Linked DNA regions of Homo sapiens. The protein of the gene in region 1 interacts with the protein of each later gene in a biochemical or structural test. Each region holds a gene or a part of one and is shown in the gene's direction. Other genes may lie near its edges. The genes, in order: ERG, TOP2B, HNRNPAB, HNRNPC, ADAR, DDX23 and HNRNPUL1.

Region 1 (3,500 bases):
AAATCCCATAGGCAGCAATTCTTATACTCTAGGTGGCTAATCAAAACAAAGTTCTAGAAAATTCAAGAGGTAAAACTCTAGCACTGAATTCTATATTTGCTCAGTGACAAGAATTCTTTCCATATTTGGCGAGATCCAAGGGGCAGTGCTTCCAGATTCCAGATCAGCTGCTGATTTAAATTTCCTCATCCCAAGTATCAACTTCCTTGCACTCGTCTTGGGCGTCAATAATGAACACGCAGGTCAGAGTTTTCCATAAGGCCTTAACAAGTCTTTCAGCAGGGTGTTCATGGAATTAAACTCTGGGAAGAACGGTAATCTGCTGTTGTACACAGATAAGTACAGAGACATTTTGAAAAGAAATGCTAAGGCCAAGCAAAATGATTTATTTTTAAAGTGCCACATCAGAATCCAATCATAACATTAACCTCAGGGCTGTTACTTTAAACACGTTTGGTAAAAACAATGCTTGTCGAATTTTTGAAAATATAATAACTTTATGCAAAGATCCCGCACTCTTGCATTTAACACATTCCACTTTTTAAATCCTTCTGCCTTGATGATTTAAAATCTCCCTTGCTGGTTTTTTTGTTTTTTAAATTTACCAAGTATTGATACAGAATCAGCACTGAAGACAGGACCCTTCTGCTACCTCCACATTCACATTCCCCCCAAGGCCATTCATTCAGATCGTCAGCCAGCAGTGAGTTTCTCATCTCCATGCTCTTTGGGTTTCATCGGGTTTTATTGGGTCTTTTTTTTTTTTTTTTTAATTTTGACAGTGTGCACATGATGCTCACCTTTGAGGAAGAAGAAACTGTTGAAACAACACTTTAGAATCTGTCAACACAATTAGTTTGTGTCTCAATTTGAGGTAGATGTCCCAAGACATTGCTCCAAGTTAAAAAGAAAAAAAAAGTATGTGGTTTTGCATTGCGTAGTCCTCTTTGGATCCATACGATATGTGTGCCTTCCCTGACCTTCCAGAGAGCATCAAAAACATGAAGGTTGAATCCAGAGAGCACAGCCCACTTTTATCTTTGGCCCAGGGAGGCACTTGGTACTCTGTATTTCTTCGTGGCATCCTTAAAATAGCCTCTGTGGAAAAGGGATTGGCCTTATCTTCCGTGCAACGGATGGGAGGCATAGATATAGCTGCTGGCAAGGGGAAGTGGAAAGAGGCCCATCTGGGAGAGGGTGGCCCGGAGCTTTAGTTTGATGCTGCAGGACTTCCCCAGGTGAACGCACCTCTCCTGGCCCTAGCTCCCTTATAGGAAAATGGAGGTGGTCAGCTCCGCCTTCTCCACAGTGACCATCTGCTGACTGTGCTGCTGCCAGGACGCAGGGGGAGCTAACAGCAGTGCCCCTATCGGATCTTCAAACCGGGGAGGGGTCTCGTGCAGTGGGCAGGGGAAATGGGCTCCCACCTGGCTTTTGGGGTTCACTCCCTGGCTGTTCTACTTCCTGGCCATTTCACCTTTGGCAAGCCACAGCCTCACAGGAGATAGGCTTTTCCATCGGTGAAATGGGTAGAGTGATAGTTCCTACTTCACAGGGTTATAGTGAGATTCACCAAGTCGCAAGAGCCCAGAACTGTATATGGCACACATAAGCTCCTCAATCAAAGTTAGTTAATTTTACTATTCATTCAAGCCAAATACATTTTTCTTCTAAGACTAAAATCAGGGAATCTATGAAAAGCATTTCCCCCTACCTTTTTTTTTTCAATTTCTACAACAGTTTGTGAATTGAATTTTGTTTTCAATTAGCCAATTTGTCCATTTTCCTGTGATGAACATGTTTTTATCTCTTCATTATAAAGTAAGAACTCTGACAGACACAGTGAGCTCCCAATTATTCACGAGCACCTGATCTGCATTGGAGATTGCTTAAAACAGGGCTGGGAAATGCTTGCTGGTGAGTTCACCGGACACTGCACAGCAGGTCCTGGAAGGAGACATTCAGGGCGTTGTTAACTTCTGTGTCTCCCTATTCTTCTTATTCTCCTTCCATACTCTTTCTCTCTCATTGCAATCGCTATCCACCTGGAAGGCGGCTTGAAAAACACAAAAGACAACAAGGATGATGAGGGGGACCCCTCCTGAGCCTCTTAAATGCTGAGGGATCCTTCCTGGACCTGTTTTTATTCATTCCAAGCTGCCTCTCCTAGACAATCACTTCTCTTACCCCAGGAAATCTGGGACGGTGCAGGTTTGCAAGCTTGATCTGGAATAAAGAAACAAAGGAAAAGACGGACCAGGAGGCTTGGCCTACGCCAGGCAAAAGTCAGCAAAAGCAGCCACTACACATCTCCTTTTGAGTTCTAACTTTTCACTTTGTCTTGTGTGAACTCCTAAACTGGAAGCATATTTATAGTCACGTAAAAATAAGAATATTGTCCAAGGCCAAATGTAAGTGACTTTTATGAGTTATTGGACTTTGTGAATTACTCATTCTACCAACCTGAATTAACATAGATAGTTTTGTTGACTTTACCTTCTTTGTAAGCCAAACAGTATGAACTCGGTTAAGCCGGTCTTAGGAGAAAAGACATAAAATGTGTGTTGCTAGGATAGCATTCTAGTGAAGGAAGCCACTTCTTTGTTTCTTGTGCATCCCTGTGAGGGTACCTCTGTCCATCCCAAGAGCTGTTTTCATGGACTCACTGTTGAAAGCCCAAGCCTATTGTAACCAATTTTGATAAGCTGGTTACAAAATAAGCACATGTATACATTTTTTAAAGCCTTGTTCTTCTGGAGATGGAAAACATCTTTTTTTAGATCACATGTTTACTGCTTTGGTAAACAGTAAAATGCTGCTACAGCAATTACCTTGAGGATAAAGGGTTTGTAGACAGATACTTCCTGCGTTCACTTCCTACACAGATAGCCAGCCCAACCAGAGACGCACTGATGCAGGAAGGGCTCCCAGTGGAAACTTCCTCTCTCCGAATGCGTGGTCCATTATTCGTTATCTCCTCTCCAAGGGGAATAAGCTTGTTGCTCCAGATTTTCTAGGAGAATTCTGTCTTGAAACAGGTAAAAATATAAAGTTTCTAAAGTAATGATTACAGTACCTCGTTCTCATCCTCGGTGTCATCTACTCGGTGATTTTTAAGGGGACGTGATTAGACTAGAATAGACTTGTCTATGAGTAACATGCCCCGTAGGCACCTCTGTCTCCTTTGAATCATGGAAAATGATGCATAATTCGAATGTTTTTATATTTGGTAGAAAAATAAGTCTCTTTGAGATTCAATGGAAGGCCTTTTCTATGGTTAGTTGAAAGGTCATTTTAGATTTTGCTTTCTTTAGTCAAGCAGAGATTACCAGATTTGGGTACAAAAAATATCAGCTCACAGATTGTTCTCTGTGCTGATTTTACAGCAGTTACTAAATTCCAACGAATGCATTGTTTAGGCCCTTTGAACCGAAGCAAATAAAACCACAGTGCACACACACTAAACAATAGGGCATCATCAATTAGCCATCTACAGGATG
Region 2 (3,500 bases), on another chromosome or scaffold:
AGAAATAAAAATAGAATTAGCCCCTGATTTCTTTCTTCTGGGTGAGGAGTTGTATGCCATGTGTTGCTGATATTAACTACTGTTGGGATGCATGCCAGCATGTGTTGTTAATGTCATTGCATGAAAATTTGCCTTTCAATATCTGAAACTACAAAGCCAAGTGGTTTTAGGACTGGCATTAACTTATTTTAATAATTCATTTGGTTTGTGTTTGATTTGTAGGAGTATCTCAACCAGAATTTTTTATAATTAAAAAAAGTGAAAAATATAAACATGGCAAAGCTATTTTGATTTAAAATGTATAGCAGTTACAAAGGCTTCTCTTAAGGCAGCAGGGTTTCTTGAATTAATTCTTTGTAGAGCTTTGATTAGTAGATAGTAATAGTCTGGTTCATTCTGTCAGTCTTGTATCATAAGTGATTGTAACAAAGACATTTGTGGAAATACTAGAATACAGTTATATGACTTAATCTTTTTCCCAACAATATTCTAACTTGGTAGATTAAAAAAAATTTTTAATGGAAAATGTTAAGCATCTCAAAAAGTGGTAACCAGAGTAGTATAACAAGCTTCCCTCTATTTAGCCTTAAGCTTCAATAATTATCAACCTGCCGGGTGCGGTGGCTCACGCCTGTAATCCCAGAACTTTGGGAGGCCAAGGCAGGCGGATCACCTGAGGTCAGGAGTTCATGACCAGCCTGACCAACATGGAGAAACCCCATCTCTACTAAAAATACAAAATTAGCTGGGGTGGTGGCGCATGCTTGTAATCCCAGCTACTCGGGAGGCTGAGGCAGGAGAATCGCTTGAACCTTGGAGGCGGAGGTTGCGGTGAGCCGAGATCACGCCATTGCACTCCAGCCTGGGCATCAAGAGTGAAACTCCGTCTCAAAAAAAAAAAAAAAAAAATCAACCTAAGACCACCCACTTTATCCCTTCTCATTCTTTTGAAGCAGAGCAAATCCTAGAATTTTATCACTTTCTCTGTAAATATTTCAGTATTTATCTCTAACAGTAAAGTCTCTTTTTGAAAAACTGTATAACCACAAATAACATTGTAGTTTTCTCAAAAGTCACATTTTTTGAAATATATAACATATTTTTGGAGTGTGAATATCTCTAATTAAACATGACTATGTATTTAAATATTGTTTAAAGATTTATTTTAAGAACCTTGCTTTAGTGGTTTACTGTTGCGAGTCTAAATTGCTGAGCCAGACTTTCATAAACTATGTGCCCTTTCCAATGAAATTTATTTATTATAGTCTCCATAGTTAGATTTATCTCTTCACTGTCCCCTACACAAGTTAGGCTTGTTTTTGTCACTTTGTCTTTACATATTTGCCTTCCATCTGGAATTACTTTTTCACTTCTCTTTACTAGTCTAAATCTTAACTGTTCTTCAGGGCTAGCTCAGAGCCTTGTCACATTATTATTTTCCAGTTGATACTCATCTTTTTCTTTCATTGAATGTTTGTTACTCTCATGAATCATAAAACAGAAGTCTTTATTTTTTATGTAACTTTCATGCATGATAACTTTGCCTTAATATTACAAATTTCTGAAGTTAGAGAGCATGTATTTTCCTTGTTTATGTCCTTCAGAGTGTTAAACAAAGAACTGGATACGTAATCCAGTCTCAGTTATTTAAAAATTGGATAATTGACATGCTGACTTCCTAAAAAGTCTTCTGTCATTAGTAGGACAAGAGTTTAAGTAGCAGTGTTTTTTAGATACATTCTCAAGTACATGATATAGCAGTATTTAGGCACGTTTTTAATAAACTTAATTTTTCTGAATCGAAGTATGTTCACCTGTAATCCCAGGTTTGTTGGTTAGGTGGTGGCAACAATTGCATTTTACTGAGTACACTTTAAAAAATAAACTTCTTGAATTTTTAAAAGTATTAACACGTATAGAACCCCATTTTAACGAAAAGTTGAAGTAGCTATAGTTATTCCTATTTGCAGAGAAGGAAACGGGTTTAGAGATTAGGTAACAAATTCTTAGGCACATGGTTAAGGCACAGGTGGAATTTAAACCAGACTCAGTGTTCTTAACATTTACACAGCCTTCAACTTTAAAAACATTGAAAGACAAAACAACTCATCTTTTATACTCTGATAAGACAGAATAAGGAGACATCTGGGATATACCTGTCTTTTTCTACTAACCTTTTACTTTCATACAAAAAGCTAAGGAGTATATTTCCTTTTCAGAATATGTGTACTTAGTATAGCATAATGCTAAGAGTATGGGCTGTGAAATCAGATCATCTAGTTTCATAATTCACCTTTGTCAAGTACTAGTTTTGTTAGCTTTGGGAAAACACTTATCCCAACCTTAGTTATCTCATCTGTACAAAGGGAATTATAACAGTGTCTATTTCATGGAGATACTATATAAGAATTAATTAAGATTATCGTAGTGCTTGGCACATAGTAGCTCCCAGATGGGTTCACACATACATTCTCCCTTCTTTTTTAATCCAGTGATAAGTATTTTCATTCCCTTTATTATAGAGAAAGCCTATTTTCATAGCAGAAGTCTAAGCATTTGTTACTGTCTTAAGTATCTCTTATCTCTTCCTTGCCCCTTTGTTTAGAAGGGTATTTCTGAAGGAGCATAGACAGGGGACAGTTTGTTGCTTTTTGCTTCATTAATGGTGGGTAGATAACATGGCCTCTCCATTTACATATAGGTGAAATATGGTTAGAATGAACATCATGGGATGGCAGCCTTGAGGGAGAAAAGAGAGAGGAGACATTATAAAAGGTTGGTGTTAAGTCTGAGGGGATTGTACAGAAGAAGGTAAAAGAAGGGGCTCGTTGCTAGGCTGCCAGCCCCCACTTCCACTCTTGTTGGCCTGGTGATGGTGAGCTTTCTGTGTTGATTATGTGAATGAGTGGCTCAGTTCTTTTTTAGTACCAACTGGCAAACCATCTCCTTTACCCTGTTTGTCAGCAATTCATTCTCCCTCAGAAAAACAAACTGGGTGCTTCTGCCAAATTGCTATATTTCAGGTGACAATTCTGTCCATTGAAGAATCTTTTGTTTTGTTTTGCAGAATGATCTTGGTGTATAGTCGTTCTGAAAAATAGGAAGTTTTACTGGAATGTTTTCCATTTTCTTCTGAAGACTGAGAAATGTTCTTGAAAAAGATCAAATCTTGGATTAGTATTAAATCTGTTTTTTTATTAGGCATTAGCAATATTGCAAAAGTGCCATAAGATAGGTTAATATTTAAAATATATAGTCTATATAGTTATTTTGGTATTTTTGTTATAATTTTAAATTTTCCCTAAATGCTTTGTTTAATTTGGCAGCTGACTTGAAATTCAGAAAAAGTCAATGATGTTATCATCATATTTATAAATGAAAAAGAATATAATTAAAACAACTTTTAGATATGTGTAGGAAATTTAATATGGTGATTATTTTACACTTTTATTGTCTTCATGATAATGAAAATGTAGCCTTGATTTTTTAGATTCCAATTT
Region 3 (4,131 bases), on another chromosome or scaffold:
TGAGTCCAGGGGTATGAAGCCTGCAGTTTAAGGTCTCAGAAGATCCTAGAACTTCTGCAACTCACTGATTCTCCTCTGTGGTGAAGTTTTTCTTATTCCAGAGCCTTTCTACCTCCTTCTACAACCAAGTCTTTGTCCACTTCCATCCACTTTGAGCACTTTTTTTTTTTTTTTTTTTTTTTTGCTTTGAGACAGAGTCTTGCTTTGTTGTCCAGGCTGGGGTGCGGTAACACAATCATGGCTCACTGCAACCTTGACCTCATGGGCGGACCGGATCCTCCCATCTCAGCCTCTCGAGTAGCTGGGACCACAGGCATGTACCACCATGCCTGGCTCATATGTTTTTTTAAAGCCTGGTCTCACCATGTTGCCTGGGCTCAAGCCATCCTCTGCCTTGGCCTTGTAAAGTGTTGGGATTACAGGCATGAACTGCCTCACTTGGTCTTCTGGGCACCTCTTTAAGTTAACCCTAAACCCAGGCAAAAATCCTTCCAAAGATCTCCCAGGGTCCTGGCCAGCTTAAATCCAGGGTCAGTTGTGCTTTCAAATGAGTGGATTCATGTGCAGGGAGGTGTAGCTCTTCCCCTCCTGAACTCTGGTCAGGGAAAGGGTAGTTCAGGCTTCAAGTTGGCAGTTGGGAGTTGAGGGTGCGGCCTGCAGTGGCAGGGTGTGGCAGGTTCTGTTTCTGAGCAGGAGTTGGCAGCCAGATAAGGTGGGACAGGTGGAACTCCTGGAAGTCTCTATCCTGGCTGGGAGTTTGGAAAGAGTGGATTAGGATAGTCTTAAATTTTCTATAAAATGACAGTCTTTGAGGCAGTTAGGGGAAGCAGTGGTTATTACTCCAGTGGACAGTGATAGAGGCCTTTTTCTCTATGTGCCATAATGGGAAATGGGTGGGAAGAGCCTCTAAGGCAGAGTTTAAGTGAAACTACTGGTAGTGAGTCTTAGGAGTAAGTATATTTAGTTGGTTATATTCAGTATTTTTAATTTAGTAGGATAGAATATATCAGATTGCATTATTTTAATTTGCCAATTAAAAGTATGACTGGGACACTGTAAAATGTACTATTTTTAATGGGTGTGCATGTCAGGATTTTCTTTAGAAATACACTGGTCTGGTCTAATTTATTTAAGCAGGAGCACTTTAAAGTATCCCACCCTACCCCATTCCACCCCCAGTGGACAGAAAGGAAATTGACTGACTTGAGGGGATGCAGACATCTGGGTTATTCCAACAGACCAGTGGTTAGGAGGAGGGGGTGGGTAGCATTATGGCCTCGGGCAGGCCCCCCCACCCTGAGCCTCTGAAAGCTGACTTTATCTGTAAGAGGGAGGTCAGGCTCGCCTTCTCAATAGCGTGTATTTGGATGAGATGAGTTTCTTCTGTAAAGAGAAAAAGATGTTAAAACCTCATTGTCTAAGGCCCCTCATCTGAGAAGTCTTGTCTGACCCTCTAGCCCAGCAGGACCAAGGTGTGGTGCCTGGTCCCAGCCTGTCCTCTGCTCCCCTGGGCTGCAGTTGGCCCAGTTGCCTGCCTCCATTAGATACGGAGTTGCTCTGGGGCTGAGATGCCCATCTCAAGTGCATTCTGTCGGAAGGGTTCTCTGCTGGAAGGCCTTTGGTTTTAGTTGGGATTCCATGAGCTTTAGCCCAAAGGTGGCCTCCCATACTAGCATATTTTGTTTCTCAGCAAATGGACCTGATCCACCATTTGATGTTTGTCGCAGTGAAGGTGTTTGGGCAGTCACTGCCCTGAGTTTGTCCTACTGGCCTGACCACTGTCCTCTTGACTTTTAGTGTGAGATCAAGGTGGCCCAGCCCAAAGAAGTCTATCAGCAGCAGCAGTATGGCTCTGGGGGCCGTGGAAACCGCAACCGAGGGAACCGAGGCAGCGGAGGTGGTGGTGGAGGTGGAGGTGAGTGGAACGTGGATGAAGATAGGTCCTGTTTCCCTGCCTACATGGAGCCTTCCAAGCCTGTCTTGGGGCTCCCTCTGGTGCTGTGCAGCAGGGGTGGGCAGATTGTGTGAGGTTGGGGACGAACAGGAATAGGAACGGCTCTGGGTCAGGGCTGTATGCTTGAGGCTGTTGCCTGCTGCTGCCCCTTGGAATGGCTTGGGTGCCCAGGGCAGAGAGAGCATTTGTGTTACACTCTGGGGGAGGGGATGTGATGGGTGTCTTGGCTTTGTGGATGTCCTGAGTCTGGTACACCTGTGAGCAGGTAGGCAGAAGGGTGGGTAGGGCAGAGCTGTGCCAGGCATTTATCCCCTTCCATCCCAGGCCCCTCTGACTCCAAAGCCTGAACTGCATCTTTTTAAAGGCTAAGCTGCCAAGGAGAGTGGGAGTGATCAGAGAGTGACTGAGTGAGTGAGCTGCCTTGTTTGCCCCAAGTAAAGTTAGCATCCTGGTCTCTGATCCTCTGCTTGGGTCTCTCAGATGCAGGGTTGGGCCCAGGGCCCTTATACACCAGAACAGCAGCCCCTTGGCTTCTGCCTGAGTTGCCACAGTAACCCTGCCACCCCAAAGGGCAGGATTTCCTCCATCCTAGCTCCTGCGTATGCTAAATGGTCCACGGGCCCCTGTGCCCTGCTCCCCCCACAGGTCAGAGTCAGAGTTGGAATCAGGGCTACGGCAACTACTGGAACCAGGGCTACGGCTACCAGCAGGGCTACGGGCCTGGCTATGGCGGCTACGACTACTCGCCCTATGGCTATTACGGCTACGGCCCCGGCTACGACTACAGTAAGTAGGAGAGAGGGAGGCCCCATCCGCTCACCCCTCGTCCCCAGGGGAGGCAGGACAGTGTAGGAGCCACTGGCAGCAGGGGCTTTGGAGTCAGACAGGCCTGGCTCAGCCATGGGAGCTACTTGATTTTGAGCCTTAGACTTCGGGGTCTTAATAACATGAGGAAGGCAGTCTCTGCTGTCACGGCTGGTGAGGGTCCTGGGAAGATGCATATCAAGCGCGTGGCACAGGGCAAATGCTTGTAAATAGTAGCTGCTATGGTTGTTCTCGTCCCTAGGTCAGGGTAGTACAAACTACGGCAAGAGCCAGCGACGTGGTGGCCATCAGAATAACTACAAGCCATACTGAGGCGGCAGCAGGAGCGACCAACTGATCGCACACATGCTTTGTTTGGATATGGAGTGAACACAATTATGTACCAAATTTAACTTGGCAAACTTTCTATTGCCTGTCCCATGTGCATCTTATTTAAAATTTCCCCCATGGAAATCACTCTCCTGTTGACTATTTCCAGAGCTCTAGGTGTTTAGGCAGCGTGTGGTGTCTGAGAGGCCATAGCGCCATCATGGGCTGATTTTTATTACCAGGTCCCCCAGAAGCAGGTGGGAGGCTCTGCTTCCTGCTGCCGCTCTGCAGCCTGGACCTGTGGACCCTGGTTGTAAAGAGTAAATTGTATCTTAGGAAACCAGTGTCACCTTTTTTTCACCTTTTAATTTTATATTATTTGCGTCATACATTTCCTGTAACGGAAGTGTTAATTTTACTGTACTTTTTGGTACCTTTTGGGAATCTAATGTATTGTAAGGTATTTTACACGTGTCCTGATTTTGCCACAACCTGGATATTGAAGCTATCCAAGCTTTTGAAATAAAATTTAAAAACCCCCAAGCCTGGGTGAGTGTGGGATATGCTGTGTGAGACCTCTTGCTCAGGGTCGAGGGAGGCGGGGGGGGGGTGCCAGGTGCCCTGGACTTGGGGCTTTCTCCTGCAGCAGGCTCTTCCAGCTGCAGGCCCAGTTGTGGGGGTATCCTTTAAGGACTGCCCTGCCTAGGGCTGAGCCCCCCTTCAAAGAAAGGAATGAGAGGCCTATGGGGAGTGAGGATGGGGCAGTGATGAGGGCTTACATCCCCAGCAGGCATGTCCCCTCCTGGGACACCTTGGAACACCAACCTTCTTGGCTGATGAATGAAAAAATGGGATTCTTTACACACTAGGGCAGTGCCAGGGCCGTCTGAATTGGGGCACAATAGTGCTCCTCCTGGCTGGTGAAGAAAAGCCTGCTCTGGCAGGGGATGTTTATTGGCTGGATTGGAGCCCAACTCCAGGTCTGGTATTTAGGGCATAAGACTAGGTGGTTACAAGAGGCAAGGGTGGGTTGGGGTTCCACG
Region 4 (3,500 bases), on another chromosome or scaffold:
GTACACTGGAAGGTCAGGCATTTTGTTTAAAGAATTGATTCTAAGGCCGGGTGTGGCTGCTCATGCCTGTAATCCCAGCACTTTGGGAGGCTGAGGCGGGTGGATCACGAGGTCAGGAGTTTGAGACCAGCCTGGCCAACATGGTGAAACCCCCATCTCTACTGAAAATAAAATTAGCTTGGCGTGCTGGCGCTCGCCTGTAGTCCCAGCTACTCGGGAGGCTGAGGCAGGAGAATCGCTTGAACCTGGGAGGTGGAGGTTGCAGTGAGCCATCGCACCACTGCACTCCAGCCTGGGCGACAGAGTGAGACCCCATCTCAAAAAAATGATAATAATTGATTCTAAACTGGGGAATAGAGAGATTCCCAATTTAAAATCTTCACAGTGGTTCTCAAACGTTAGCCAACACCAGAATCAATAGGGCTAGTTAAAACAGATTGCTATGATCTCTACCACAAGGGTTTCTAATTAAGTAAGTCTGGGGTGGGCCCTGAGAGTTTGCACTTCTAGTAAGTTCCAGGTGATGATGCTCATGCATCACTCATTCTGAGAGGTGCCCCTTTAGAAGAAGGGATCCAAACCTCAGGCAGGTTTTGACAAAGAATAACCTAGAGATACTTTTTTTCTAAAACTATCTCTGAGCTTTAGGTAAGGATACTTTTTTTCTTTGAGAGCCTCACACTGTCACCCAGATTAGAGTGCAGTAGTGTCATCTCAGCTCACTGCACCCTCTGCCTCCCGGGCTCAAGGGGTGCCCTCAGCCTGCTGAGTAGTGCTGCTAATTTTTTGTATTTTTGGTAGAGGCAGGGTTTCGCCATGTTGCCAGGCTGGCCTTGAATTCCTGAGCTCAGGTGATCCACCCGCCCCAAGCCTCCCAGAGTGCTGGGATTACAGGTGTGAGCCACGCCGCCTGGCCTCAAGGAATATTCTTGATTGAAAATGGTGCTAAAGTTGGTCTTTTTATGAGTGGTAGCTCTTCAGTTTAACATAAATAACATCTTGGGAGATACTGAGCTTTTTGATATTGAAAGATAGAATTGGTTTCTTTTCACATTTTTCTTTATTTTTAAGCTTATGTCTTGTGGCACCTGTACAAAGGACTTGGTTGTGGTTGAGCTATAAAGTTATGTATCTTGAAAATTGATTACCAGGTTTGGGCTGTGGCTCCAAATAAGAAAATGAAATGTTTCACCATAACTGTATTTCATAAACAGGAAAAGAACATTCAGATGTATATTTCTTACAATTCTTCACAAACTTTTTCCGCAATTTGTACATTCATACAGTTTTCACACATCAAATGTAAAAATTAACTGTCATTCCTACACTGTTCTTTTTAAAAATGTATGGTACTTGTTGCTGCTGTAGTCATTCATGTATAGTTGGCTCAAGGAACACTTCTAAAAGCTCAATTAAAAATTTTTTTTTTGAGACAGGGTCTCTCTCTGGCCTGGCTGAAGTGCAGTGGCGTGATCAGAGCTCACTGCAGCCTCGAACTCCTGGGCTCAAGTGATCCTCGCTCCTCAGACTGCTAAGTAGCTGGGATTTCAGGCTACCACACCCTGCTAATGTTTTTTGTTTTTAATAAAGTCTCGTCATGTTTCCCAGGCTGGTCTCAAACTACTGAGCTCAAGCCGTGCTCTACCCTGGCCTCCCAAAGTGTTGGGATTACAGGTGTGAGCCACCACACTTGGCCTTAAAATATTTTAATTTCCTCAAATTTACAAAGGAGAATAAGACCTCATGGCTAAATTGAACAGTGAGTGCAGCTAGTTCATTGTTTGCACAAGGAACTACAGTCTAATTGCAGTTCCTATTTTAGCTGATGAAACAACCAGTTTGTCATGGAAATTATTTTAGTGTGGTATTATGTACCAGATTTTTAGAATCCATAACTTGAAATTAGCTTTACACGCTACATAGTAAATAGTGGACTACAGAAACAAAAGTATTAACATAAGGACCTTAATTTTTTTCACCTATTTTATGACCTTAAATATTCAGTATTTTTTTAATTCCATCTGTATTTTCGTTTTGTCAGTGAGTGGAATAATGTGCTCCTTATTTAAAACATCTTTTCCCCTAACAGTAGAACCTATTAGGTCTTGTGGTTTGATCACTCACTGGTTTTGAGAATAGATGAGTCATCTCTAGTATAGATCTTCATGGTAGGCCATTCACCTTCAGTCTATTACTCATAGCAAAAACTCCACGGACTTTTTTAAGTTTAAAACCCATGAATCTGCTTAGGTTTTATAATCTCAGTATTTGACATTTGCTCACTATTTCATCTCTATTTGTTGGCCCGGTTTTTCTGTATTTTCTTTGCCCAAACTGCTCATTATCAAGATGAACATTTGGGATATACTCTTTTTGAGACCCTCAAGGGCATATTGACATGAATTTAGTTAATTTTAGTCATCTATTGATGTTGAAGAATTGTGAAGACAGTCACTGGTAGAGGTGATTCTATGGAGGCTATCCCATCCCAGTGGAATGTTAATGCTTTACCAAAATGTGTTAGCTGCAGTAGACAGATGTTTCTGTCTTGGGGGTTTAGGGCACAACATTTCTGAGGAACTCTGACTCAATCTGTCCCTTCTCCTTTCACAGGGCAGCAAGGCGAACCCCATCCCTACTCACTGGAGCTCAGCTTTGATTTTTAACCTCCCTTCCCCACCCTTCCAGAACACACACATTCCATTCCAAAACTGATTTTATAAAGACATTTTAAACATAATGATGCAACTTGGTGTGCACTACAGCAAATGTACAGGTGTTTTTTTTTTAATTGTTTCCAAAACCGGGACCTGGATTTAAGATGTAATTTTTAAAATTTCTATTTCTATTTTTTCTGCAGCAGTTGGGTTAGAGGAGGAGGAGCCTTTTAGCCTCTCATAAACTGACCTCTCTACTTCCTCGTGTATTTTTAAGATTGATTGATGATGTGGAAAGGGCTTTGCTTGTCTGCTACTGAAAACTTTATCCTTGCGGTTTTTGTGGAAACTGCTTTTGGAAAGAGAAAAGAAATGAACTTTACTGACTTGACATTTTTGCACCTCCCGTTTTTCTAATCTGGGCTATTTTTATTTTTGTTTTTTTACAGTGAGATTTTTTTGATCTTCAGCTACAGTAAGTTATTCCAATTTTTTTTTAACATTTTTCCTGACTTTCCGCTGATTTCCTTTTTATTGTTGTTACTAGTTACTATTACTTATTATTATTATATTAATACTTATGATGGTGATGATGATGATGATAATGACACTGATGATTTTTAACCGGATTAAAATCGAGTTTTTCTGAATGTTTCTAAGAATTTCTCCGGCCTCCTGATTGACTTTGGAGTTTTGCATCTTGGGAGAGAAAGCGAAGGCATTAGTATTTTTAAGTGGTTTGATCACGTAAACCTTTTCTCTCCCAACCCCACCCTTGCCCTCATCCCCTTCCCCACACTGAAAAGAATTTTACTGGCTGTTAAGTCTATGACCTTATTTTTC
Region 5 (3,500 bases), on another chromosome or scaffold:
AATGAGGGGCTGGAACTGGAAGAAAACACATTTAAGACACAGTACAGAGGTGGCAGACAAGGTGGGACTTGGCAACTACCTGATGAGATCCAGGAGATGAGGCCAGGAGGCGGGCAGCAAAGATGACGCAGGTTTCTAGCCTTAATAGGCTAGGAGGAGAGTGATGCCATTAGCAATAAGAACTACAGGAGAAGGAGCTGAGTTTGAGGGAACTATTAATTTGGTTCAGAATATGTGCTGTTTGAGTTATGGCAGGATATTTAAGTGGACAGACTGTCGACATAGTTGGAAATTCAGATCTTAAGCTCCCACACAAGGTAGTGGCTGGACATAGTAGATTTGAGTGCTCTTGCTTCAGAGGGCTAGTTTAGGTTGGGGCAGTGATTAAAGCAACCTAGGAAATAAATTATAAAGGAAGAAGAGGTCCTTAAAACCTTGGAGACTGATTATATAAAGGGTGGATCCGTTAATACAGTAGCTATTAAAAAATTATAAGGGGTGGGAAAAAGGGACAAAGAAGAAAAAAGAGGTGAAAGACCTTTGCTGTGTCACCAAACCCTGGGAGGAGAATTTTTTAAAAGAAGAGTACTCAATCCACAGTGAACTAAGGCATGTTTGTTAAACACAATTGACCACCACACAGCGAAGACCCAAATGAGGTTCAAGAGAAGGAATTTTTATGGACCCTGTTAGCACAAGTCAAGGTCCTTCTCCAGTACCACTGGGAAGCTTTGGAGAAGAAAAGGGGGACAGTGGGCCTTGGGTGGAGAAGGGAACTGACCATGAGATCCAGGTGGGGTGAGGAGGTGTGTGAAGTCAGAGTGGGGAAGAATCAGGGTGGCTTACTGGCAGCTTCACCGGGGTCATGCGAGGAGCAGGTTCCACCAGAGTAAGGAGTGAAGTTGTAGAAACACAGGGAAGTCACCATCAGAAAAGAGCAGGAGTCAAGAAACTATGGCCCACAGGTACAAACTACCTGTTTTTATAAATAAAGCTTCATGGTAAATGAATTGTAAATAAAGTTTTGCATATTGTGTGAGGCTGTTTTTGTGCTACAGTGGCAGAGCTGTCTGGCCCTTTATAGAAAAAGTTTATCAGCCACTGGAAAAGAGTTGCAGGATTTGAGGTCTTGGTGTGATGGCCTAGGTTAGAGTCATAGTGAGATTGAAGGAGTAGCTAGACAAGCCAATTGTGTGGCAGAAAGGTAGGGATGGAGATCACTGGGTTAAGGATCCTTGTAGCCAGGACACCATGAGAGTGATTGACAAGAATGCTGAAATCCCCTAAGTGTGTCAGGATGTGGAAGAGTAGAAGGCTAGAGTTATGGAAGAAAGGGTCCCACCTCTACCTGTGCAGCCTCCAGGAGAGTCTGAGGAGGGGGCGGTGAGTGTGAGTAAATGTTGTCAGAATCCCTCCTCCCAGTCTACAAGCCCCAGGGAAAGGAAGCAAGGTGTTTACTGACACCCCCAGGCTTATAAGTACTTCCTGGCTCCATCACCCTCCAGTGAACAGCCCTGGGGAGAAGACAGTACTGGTTTGCAGGTGGGTGGGTGGGGAAAGGGGTCACAGGTGCTTGGTGTTCTGGTAAATGTGCATATGAGAACATGGGGTTGCTTGTGCCCTGTCCGTCAGGGTTCAGAAGAACGTGCAGTGGAAGCAGCTATGGGGAAGTAGCTAGGGAAGGTAGGACTGGTCTGAGGTGGTGAGGAGCAGATGCTGCCAGCTCCACACATCCAGGAGAGCCTGGGTGGTTTGGGCAAAAGTCTCTGGCATCCCTTCTGAGCCTGGGTACCACACTGAAGAGTGAGGACAGTGTGCCATTTTTATCAGGAAACCCTCCAGCTCCCTGAAGACCAAATTCTGATCCTCCTGGGATGGCAGTGAAGAGCCACAGAGATGACTCTGAGGTCCCGTGGCCTTTTCCCACCTGGAGATTGTTTTCGTTACTGCGCTGTTACAGCCTTGGAGGACTGGGGTTCAGTTTCATCCAATCACATTTCTTCTTTTGTCATAGTCATCTAAACGATAGATCTTAGAGACAGGTGGGCAAGGGGTGCACTGGTGAGCCTGACTTAAGGAGAGGTCATCTCGTCCCTTCCCTAGTCCCATCTCCCTTGGTTATTGTTATTTCATGTGATTGTTCTGGTTATTTCAGGTTATTCTGTTTTTGTTTTCAAAACAATAACATATATTTGTTGTTCTGATTTTAAAGGGGTAATTGTTTTGGTAACTAGAAAATTACCTTCTCAACTCCCTTAAATTCTGTCAAAGGGAAAAGTAAGTTAGGTTGCTGGAGAGGCTATGCTGAGGCCTCAGAACCTCTGTATTCCTGGAAGTTCTGCGTGCTTTGCCTCCTGCTCCCCTCTCTGTGTTCCTGTTGGCAGGCCCCTAGGCAGGATTTAGGAGGTAGGCAAGTCACCCTAGCCAAGTCATAAGCCCATGGCTCAATTGCCTTCTCAGCCCTTCAAGGGCTGTTCCACAGGCAGCAAAGGGAGGGGCCTCCACAGGTTCACCACTGCAGCCCTAATTCATTTTCTTTTTCCACTGTCTTATTCTGCAGGGGTATTCCCTCAGCGGATACTACACCCATCCATTTCAAGGCTATGAGCACAGACAGCTCAGGTACCAGCAGCCTGGGCCAGGATCTTCCCCCAGTAGTTTCCTGCTTAAGCAAATAGAATTTCTCAAGGGGCAGCTCCCAGAAGCACCGGTGATTGGAAAGCAGACACCGTCACTGCCACCTTCCCTCCCAGGACTCCGGCCAAGGTTTCCAGTACTACTTGCCTCCAGTACCAGAGGCAGGCAAGTGGACATCAGGGGTGTCCCCAGGGGCGTGCATCTCAGAAGTCAGGGGCTCCAGAGAGGGTTCCAGCATCCTTCACCACGTGGCAGGAGTCTGCCACAGAGAGGTGTTGATTGCCTTTCCTCACATTTCCAGGAACTGAGTATCTACCAAGATCAGGAACAAAGGATCTTAAAGTTCCTGGAAGAGCTTGGGGAAGGGAAGGCCACCACAGCACATGATCTGTCTGGGAAACTTGGGACTCCGAAGAAAGAAATCAATCGAGTTTTATACTCCCTGGCAAAGAAGGGCAAGCTACAGAAAGAGGCAGGAACACCCCCTTTGTGGAAAATCGCGGTCTCCACTCAGGCTTGGAACCAGCACAGCGGAGTGGTAAGACCAGACGGTCATAGCCAAGGAGCCCCAAACTCAGACCCGAGTTTGGAACCGGAAGACAGAAACTCCACATCTGTCTCAGAAGATCTTCTTGAGCCTTTTATTGCAGTCTCAGCTCAGGCTTGGAACCAGCACAGCGGAGTGGTAAGACCAGACAGTCATAGCCAAGGATCCCCAAACTCAGACCCAGGTTTGGAACCTGAAGACAGCAACTCCACATCTGCCTTGGAAGATCCTCTTGAGTTTTTAGACATGGCCGAGATCAAGGAGAAAATCTGCGACTATCTCTTCAATGTGTCTGACTCCTCTGCCCTGAATTTGG
Region 6 (3,500 bases), on another chromosome or scaffold:
ATCTAAAGATAGAAAGCGGCATCGTTCAAGGGATAGACGTCGAGGAGGCAGCCGTTCTCGCTCTCGTTCCCGTTCCAAATCTGCAGAAAGGTAAAGTAACTTTGTATGTTATTACATGGGAAGGGAGAGTACGTTTCAGATTTCTTCCTTCTTGGTTCTTCTGATGCCTCCAGTATTAGGCATCTACTTTTTATTTTTATTTTTTGAGACAGAGTCTCGCTCTGTTTGTTACCCAGACTGGAGTGCAGTGGTGCGATCTCAGCTCACTGCAAGCTCCGCCTCGCAGGTTCACGCCATTCTCCTGCCTCTGCCTCCTGAGTGCGTAGCTGGGACTACAGGCGCCCGACACCATGCCCGGCTAATGTTTTTGTATTTTTAGTAGAGATGAGGTTTCACCGTGTTAGCCAGGATGGTCTCGATCTCCTGACGTGATCTGCCTGCTTCAGCCTCCCCAAGTGCTGAGATTATAGGCGTGAGCCACCGCGCCTGGCCTTTTTTTTTTTTTTTTTAAAAGATGGAGTTTCACTCTTGTTTCCCAGGCTGGAGTGCAATGGCACGATCTCGGCTCACTGCAACCTCTGCCTCCCAGGTTCAAGCAATTCTCCTGCCTCAGCCTCCCGAATAGCTGGGATTACAGGCATGTGCCACCACACCTGGCTAATTTTGTACTTTTAGTAGAGACGGGGTTTCTCCACGTTGGTCAGGCTGATCTCAATCTTCCGACCTCAGGTGATCCACCCACCTCAGCTTCCCAAAGTGCTGGGATTACGGGCGTGAGCCACCACGCCCGGCTAGGCATCTACTTTTTGTACATTAATCTACTCCTAGCCCAGTTGGACCTGCAGGTGTTTTCAGTTTTCCTCAGTGACCCAACTCTTAAAAGTTGAGAGGGGGCCGGGCGCGGTTGGTTCACGCCTGTAATCCCAGCACTTTGGGAGGCCGAGGCAGGTGGATCACGAGGTCAGGAGATCGAGACCATCCTGGCTAACACAGTGATACCTGATCTCTACTAAAAATAAAAAAAAAAAAAGTTGAGAGGGAACTAGTAAGGTGAAGGTCCGGGTTATCAAGGAAGGTTCATCTGTGGCCGGGCGCGGTGGCTCATACCTATAATCCCAGCACTTTGGGAGGCCGAGGTAGGTGGATTACTTGAGGTGAGGAGTTTGAGAGCAGCCTGGCCAACATGGCAAAACCCCGTCTCTACTAAAAATACAAAAATTAGCCAGGCATGGTGGTGCACATCTGTAATCCCAGCTACTCGGGAGGCTGAGGCATGACAATTCCTTGAACTCGGGAGGCAGAGGCTGCAGTGAGCCGAGATCACACCACTGCACTCCAGCCTGGGCGTGAGAGTGAGACTCCATCTCAAAAAAATAAAAAAGGAAGGTTCATCTGTTCACATAGTCCGTGACCTGTCATTGCCGTTAATATTTAACAGTACATCTCTGATCTATAAAAGCTTCTTAGAATTCCCTCGTTATTTCCGTGAGAGATACATTCTCTAATTTGTAAAACATTACTTTGGGACGAGAGTATAGGAACTTTCTCAGGGCTGCAGTGAAGCAAGATACTTTGGAAATACCAAGTGAACTCTTAAATTTGCGGTCTTCCAGAGAACGACGGCACAAAGAACGAGAACGAGATAAGGAGCGGGATCGGAATAAGAAGGACCGAGATCGAGACAAGGATGGGCACAGACGGGACAAGGACCGTAAACGATCCAGGTACATGAAGGAATGAGAGGGGGCTTTAGGGGAATGCTCCCATTTCTTCTCTGCACCTGAGTTTGCTCAGCTTCTTATGAAAGTAGATTTCTCGCCAGGCGTGGTGGCTCACGCCTGTAATCCCAGCACTTTGGGAGGCTGAGGCTGGTGGATCACGAAGTCAGGAGATCGAGACCATCCTGGCTAACATGGTGAAACCCCGTCTCTACTAAATATACAAAAAATTAGCCGGGCGTGGTGGCGGGTGCCTGTAGTCCCAGCTACTCAGGAGGCTGAGGTAGGAGAATGGCGTGAACCCGGGAGGCGGAGCCTGCAGTGAGTCGAGATCACGCCACTGCACTCCAGCCTGGGCGACAGAGCAAGACTCTGTCTCAAAAAAAAAAAAAAAAAAAGAAAGAAAGAAAGTAGATTTCTCTTAACAGATTCTGTTGGTAGTTATTACAGAGCTCTCTTTCTTATTTATTTTTATTTATTTTTTTGAGGCAGGGTCTCTTTTGCCCAGGCTGGAGTGCAGTGGTGTGATCACAACTTACTGCAGCCTTGACTCCCCCAGGCTTAGGTGATCCACCCACCTCAGCCTCCTGAGTAGCTGGACTACAGGCATCTGCCACCAGATTTTGTTTTTTTTGGGTTTTTTTTTTTTTAATTGATCATTCTTGGGTGTTTCTTGCAGAGGGGGATTTGGCAGGGTCACAGGACAATAGTGGAGGGAAGGTCAGCAGATAAACAAGTGAACAAAGGTCTCTGGTTTTCCTAGGCAGAGGACCCTGCGGCCTTCCGCAGTGTTTGTGTCCCTGGGTACTTGAGATTAGGGAGTGGTGATGACTCTTAACGAGCATGCTGCCTTCAAGCATCTGTTTAACAAAGCACATCTTGCACCACCCTTAATCCATTCAACCCTGAGTGGACACAGCACATGTTTCAGAGAGCACAGGGTTGGGGGTAAGGTCACAGATCAACAGGATCCCAAGGCAGAAGAATTTTTCTTAGTACAGAACAAAATGAAAAGTCTCCCATGTCTACCTCTTTCTACACAGACACGGCAACCATCCGATTTCTCAATCTTTTCCCCACCTTTCCCGCCTTTCTATTCCACAAAACCGCCACTGTCATCATGGTCCGTTCTCAATGAGCTGTTGAGTACACCTCCCAGACGGGGTGGTGGGCGGGCAGAGGGGCTCCTCACTTCCCAGTAGGGGCGGCCGGGCAGAGGCGCCCCTCACCTCCTGGACGGGGCGGCTGGCCGGGCGGGGGGCTGACCCCCCCACCTCCCTCCCGGACGGGGCGGCTGGCCGGGCAGAGGGGCTCCTCACTTCCCAGTAGGGGCGGCCGGGCAGAGGCGCCCCTCACCTCCTGGACGGGGCGGCTGGCCGGGCGGGGGGCTGACCCCCCCACCTCCCTCCCGGACGGGGCGGCTGGCCGGGCGGGGGGCTGACCCCCCCACCTTCCTCCCGGACGGGGTGGCTGGCCGGGCGGGGGGCTGACCCCCCTACCTCCCTCCCGGATGGGGCGGCTGGCCGGGCGGGGGGCTGACCTCCCCCACCTCCTTCCCGGACGGGGCGGCTGACTGGGCAGAGAGGCTCCTCACTTCCCAGTAGGGGCGGCCGGGCAGAGGCGCCCCTCACCTCCCGGACAGGGCGGCTGGCCGGGCCGGGGGCTGACCCCCCCACCTCCCTCCCGGATGGGCGGCTGGCCGGGTGGGGGGATGACCCCCCCACCTCCCTCCTGGACGGGGCGGCTGGCCGGGTGGGGAGCTAACCCCCCCCACCTCCCTCC
Region 7 (2,958 bases), on another chromosome or scaffold:
CCATGCCTGGCTAATTTTTGTATTTTTAGTAGAGATGGGGTTTTGCCATGTTGGCCAGGCTGGTCTTGAACTCCTGACCTCAGGTGATCCACCCGCCTCGGCCTCCCAAAGTGCTGGGATTACAGGCGTGAGCCACCGCGCCCGCCCTTCTGTCTATGTCTTTCTTATTCACTATTCCAGTTTTCTTCACCTTCTCCCTTCTGGAAGGCCACTCTTCTGGGTGGAGGGGACCAGACTTCAGAAGGTACTGACCTCTTCTTCTTGTTCTCTTTGGGGCACTTCCTTCCTCCTAGCCAACTTCACGTTGCCAGATGTTGGGGACTTCCTGGATGAGGTTCTGTTCATTGAGCTGCAGCGGGAGGAAGCGGACAAGCTAGTGAGGCAGTACAACGAGGAAGGCCGCAAGGCTGGGCCACCCCCTGAAAAGCGCTTTGACAACCGAGGTGGTGGTGGCTTCCGGGGCCGCGGGGGTGGTGGTGGCTTCCAGCGCTATGAAAACCGAGGACCCCCTGGAGGCAACCGTGGCGGCTTCCAGAACCGAGGGGGAGGCAGCGGTGGAGGAGGCAACTACCGAGGAGGTGAGACATCTCACACACAGCACTCTCCACTTTCTGTTCCCAGGTTGGGGCTGGGCTTTGACTGCTTATTCAATCAGCAACTGAAGTTTTCTGAGCTCCAGCTGTGAGTTATACTCTGGTAGAAAACTTGAAACAAGTCAGACACGGAGACCTCAGAAACGCTCCCACTTTCCCACTCCCTGGACGCTGGTTATGAAGCCCTTTGCCCATTTGCATATCACAGTGCACATTCTGTCACATTGCTGTCATTTTTGTGAACCTTCCCCCATCTGACCATGAGCTCCTTGGAAATAGGATCTAGATCAAAATCTATTGGAAATGGGGGCTACATCTTTGGCCAGGTCTGAAGAGGACTAGATGTGACTCGTTCATGGCTGTCACCAGTGCTTAGCTTCCTCTCATTTTTTTTTTTTTTTTTTTTGAGACGGAGTTTTGCTCTTGTTGCCCAGGCTAGAGTGCAATGGTGTAATCTCGGCTCACTGCAACCTCTGCCTCCCGGCATTCAAGCGATTCTCTCGCCTCAGTCTCCTGAGTAGCTGGGATTGTAGGCAAGCACCACCACGCCCGGCTAATTTTGTATTTTTAGTAGAGATGGGGTTTCTCCATGTTGGTCAGGCTGGTCTTGAACTCCTGACCTCACGTGGTCCACCCGCCTTAGCCTCCCAGAGTGCTAGGATTACAGATGTGAGCCACCGCACCCTGCCAGCTTCCTCTCCTTGAGCATCTCCTTCCTGCATATTCAACAGCTATTGAGATGCTGGGACACAGAAACCCAGGACTGCCTTGGTCTCTGCCTCACCATTCTTGCAGTCCAGTGAATGAGACAAACCTGTCATAAGGGCTGGGACAGGGGAGTATGCCCGGGGGTCTAGAGAATCCCAGAGGACATGCTTTGTTGTTCACCTTGAGTTCTTGCTCTGCGCCTGGCCATGCCGGCTCACAGTAGTCACCAAGACAACCCAGTTCCCTGGGGTTGCCATTTGGGAATGATGGCGCCTTTCATCTGGATTTCTCCAACACAGGTTTCAACCGCAGCGGAGGTGGTGGCTATAGCCAGAACCGCTGGGGTAACAACAACCGGGATAACAACAACTCCAACAACAGAGGCAGCTACAACCGGGCTCCCCAGCAACAGCCGCCACCACAGCAGCCTCCGCCACCACAGCCACCACCCCAGCAGCCACCGCCACCACCCAGCTACAGCCCTGCTCGGAACCCCCCAGGGGCCAGCACCTACAATAAGAACAGCAACATCCCTGGCTCAAGCGCCAATACCAGCACCCCCACCGTCAGCAGCTACAGCCCTCCACAGGTGAGAGAATGAGTGTGTGTTTGTATGTAGTGATCGCACGTGTGCTTTTGAACCTGAGCAAGTTAGGTGGAGGCGGATCTGGGGAAATCAACACATGCCCCAGCTACTGGTCTTCACTCTAACCTCTAGCCTGCCCTTCTTTCTCCCTGGCCGTGATCTTGACTCAGATGGACCCTACACATTCCCAGATCCCCTCCAAACCCAGGAGTAAATGTAGACCTTCCCAGAACCTGCTCTTCTCCCACCACCCTCAAGGGGATGGGCTGTAAGCACTGATCCCTCCAGCAAGTACATTATTCTTGGCTAGTGTCACTAACCTCACTAAATCCCCAAGAAAGCACTTGACTGGAGTCACCCCTTGCCCAGGCTGGCTGACCTCTTTGTCTTTTGGACATAATAACCAGGGCACTAAGGTTGCTGAGGACTTGCCCTCTGCACAGAGAGCTTCAATCCTGAGCAGCTCCAGGCTCAGTTCCCATTCTTGGAAAGCCAGTGCCCTGGCTCTGGTATGCACAGGCTCCTGTAAACCAGAGAGGTTTTCAGTTATCGCACAGCCATTTCCCAAGCACTTTCCTCATGCCGGGCCTGGAATCAGCTGCCAGGAGACCAATGGATGGTTCCCAGGCCCAGCTAACTAGAATATTTCTTAGAACAAGAGTTGGGCAGGCACAGATCCAAACCCCCAGCCCCACAACATCCTGTTTCTGTGAGCTTGGACAAATAGCTTCCCGTCTCTGGGCCTCATTTTCCTCATAAAGGTGTTAGTAGAAGTCCCTTCCAAGGTTTGTTGTGAGGAATGGGTGGCACTATAGCTCTGGGACTAGGCAGACCTGGGGTCAAGTCCTTTTTCCTTGGCCCAGAAATTTCATCTTGAGCCTCAGTTTCTTTCTCTTTAAAATGGGGCTAGTGGGACCTACCCCTAGGTTCTATATGGAGATTATATGATGTAATGATCCAACCTGTACTTGGGAAGCACTTAGTCAATTGCCACTACTGTTTCTCAGCAGATCTTCCAGTAACAACTACCACCACCTGTTGAGTACCCAGTGGTTTATACACACAAGCTTA

Evidence for each region.
Region 2: the proteins of ERG (region 1) and TOP2B form a complex in vitro, tested with the Homo sapiens proteins (one large-scale study listed by BioGRID).
Region 3: the proteins of ERG (region 1) and HNRNPAB form a complex in vitro, tested with the Homo sapiens proteins (one large-scale study listed by BioGRID).
Region 4: the proteins of ERG (region 1) and HNRNPC form a complex in vitro, tested with the Homo sapiens proteins (one large-scale study listed by BioGRID).
Region 5: the proteins of ERG (region 1) and ADAR form a complex in vitro, tested with the Homo sapiens proteins (one large-scale study listed by BioGRID).
Region 6: the proteins of ERG (region 1) and DDX23 form a complex in vitro, tested with the Homo sapiens proteins (one large-scale study listed by BioGRID).
Region 7: the proteins of ERG (region 1) and HNRNPUL1 form a complex in vitro, tested with the Homo sapiens proteins (one large-scale study listed by BioGRID).

Annotation. Positions count from the first base shown.
Region 1 is NC_000021.9:38,488,478-38,491,977, reverse strand, and holds part of ERG (transcriptional regulator ERG), read left to right. Parts: intron 1-3,500. UniProt on the Homo sapiens protein: Transcriptional regulator. May participate in transcriptional regulation through the recruitment of SETDB1 histone methyltransferase and subsequent modification of local chromatin structure.
Region 2 is NC_000003.12:25,658,408-25,661,907, reverse strand, and holds part of TOP2B (DNA topoisomerase 2-beta), read left to right. Parts: intron 1-3,500. UniProt on the Homo sapiens protein: Key decatenating enzyme that alters DNA topology by binding to two double-stranded DNA molecules, generating a double-stranded break in one of the strands, passing the intact strand through the broken strand, and religating the broken strand.
Region 3 is NC_000005.10:178,207,533-178,211,663, forward strand, and holds the end of HNRNPAB (heterogeneous nuclear ribonucleoprotein A/B), read left to right. Parts: exon of another isoform or gene 1-749; intron 750-938; exon of another isoform or gene 939-1,383; intron 1,384-1,797; coding exon 1,798-1,915; intron 1,916-2,599; coding exon 2,600-2,740; intron 2,741-3,020; coding exon 3,021-3,091; 3' UTR 3,092-3,631; downstream 3,632-4,131. UniProt on the Homo sapiens protein: Binds single-stranded RNA. Has a high affinity for G-rich and U-rich regions of hnRNA. Also binds to APOB mRNA transcripts around the RNA editing site.
Region 4 is NC_000014.9:21,262,943-21,266,442, reverse strand, and holds part of HNRNPC (heterogeneous nuclear ribonucleoproteins C1/C2), read left to right. Parts: exon of another isoform or gene 1-50; intron 51-894; exon of another isoform or gene 895-3,106; 5' UTR 3,107-3,132; exon of another isoform or gene 3,133-3,500. UniProt on the Homo sapiens protein: Binds pre-mRNA and nucleates the assembly of 40S hnRNP particles. Interacts with poly-U tracts in the 3'-UTR or 5'-UTR of mRNA and modulates the stability and the level of translation of bound mRNA molecules. Single HNRNPC tetramers bind 230-240 nucleotides.
Region 5 is NC_000001.11:154,601,687-154,605,186, reverse strand, and holds part of ADAR (double-stranded RNA-specific adenosine deaminase), read left to right. Parts: intron 1-2,560; coding exon 2,561-3,500. UniProt on the Homo sapiens protein: Catalyzes the hydrolytic deamination of adenosine to inosine in double-stranded RNA (dsRNA) referred to as A-to-I RNA editing.
Region 6 is NC_000012.12:48,842,164-48,845,663, reverse strand, and holds part of DDX23 (probable ATP-dependent RNA helicase DDX23), read left to right. Parts: coding exon 1-90; intron 91-1,613; coding exon 1,614-1,724; intron 1,725-3,500. UniProt on the Homo sapiens protein: Involved in pre-mRNA splicing and its phosphorylated form (by SRPK2) is required for spliceosomal B complex formation.
Region 7 is NC_000019.10:41,302,372-41,305,329, forward strand, and holds part of HNRNPUL1 (heterogeneous nuclear ribonucleoprotein U-like protein 1), read left to right. Parts: intron 1-293; coding exon 294-578; intron 579-1,600; coding exon 1,601-1,890; intron 1,891-2,958.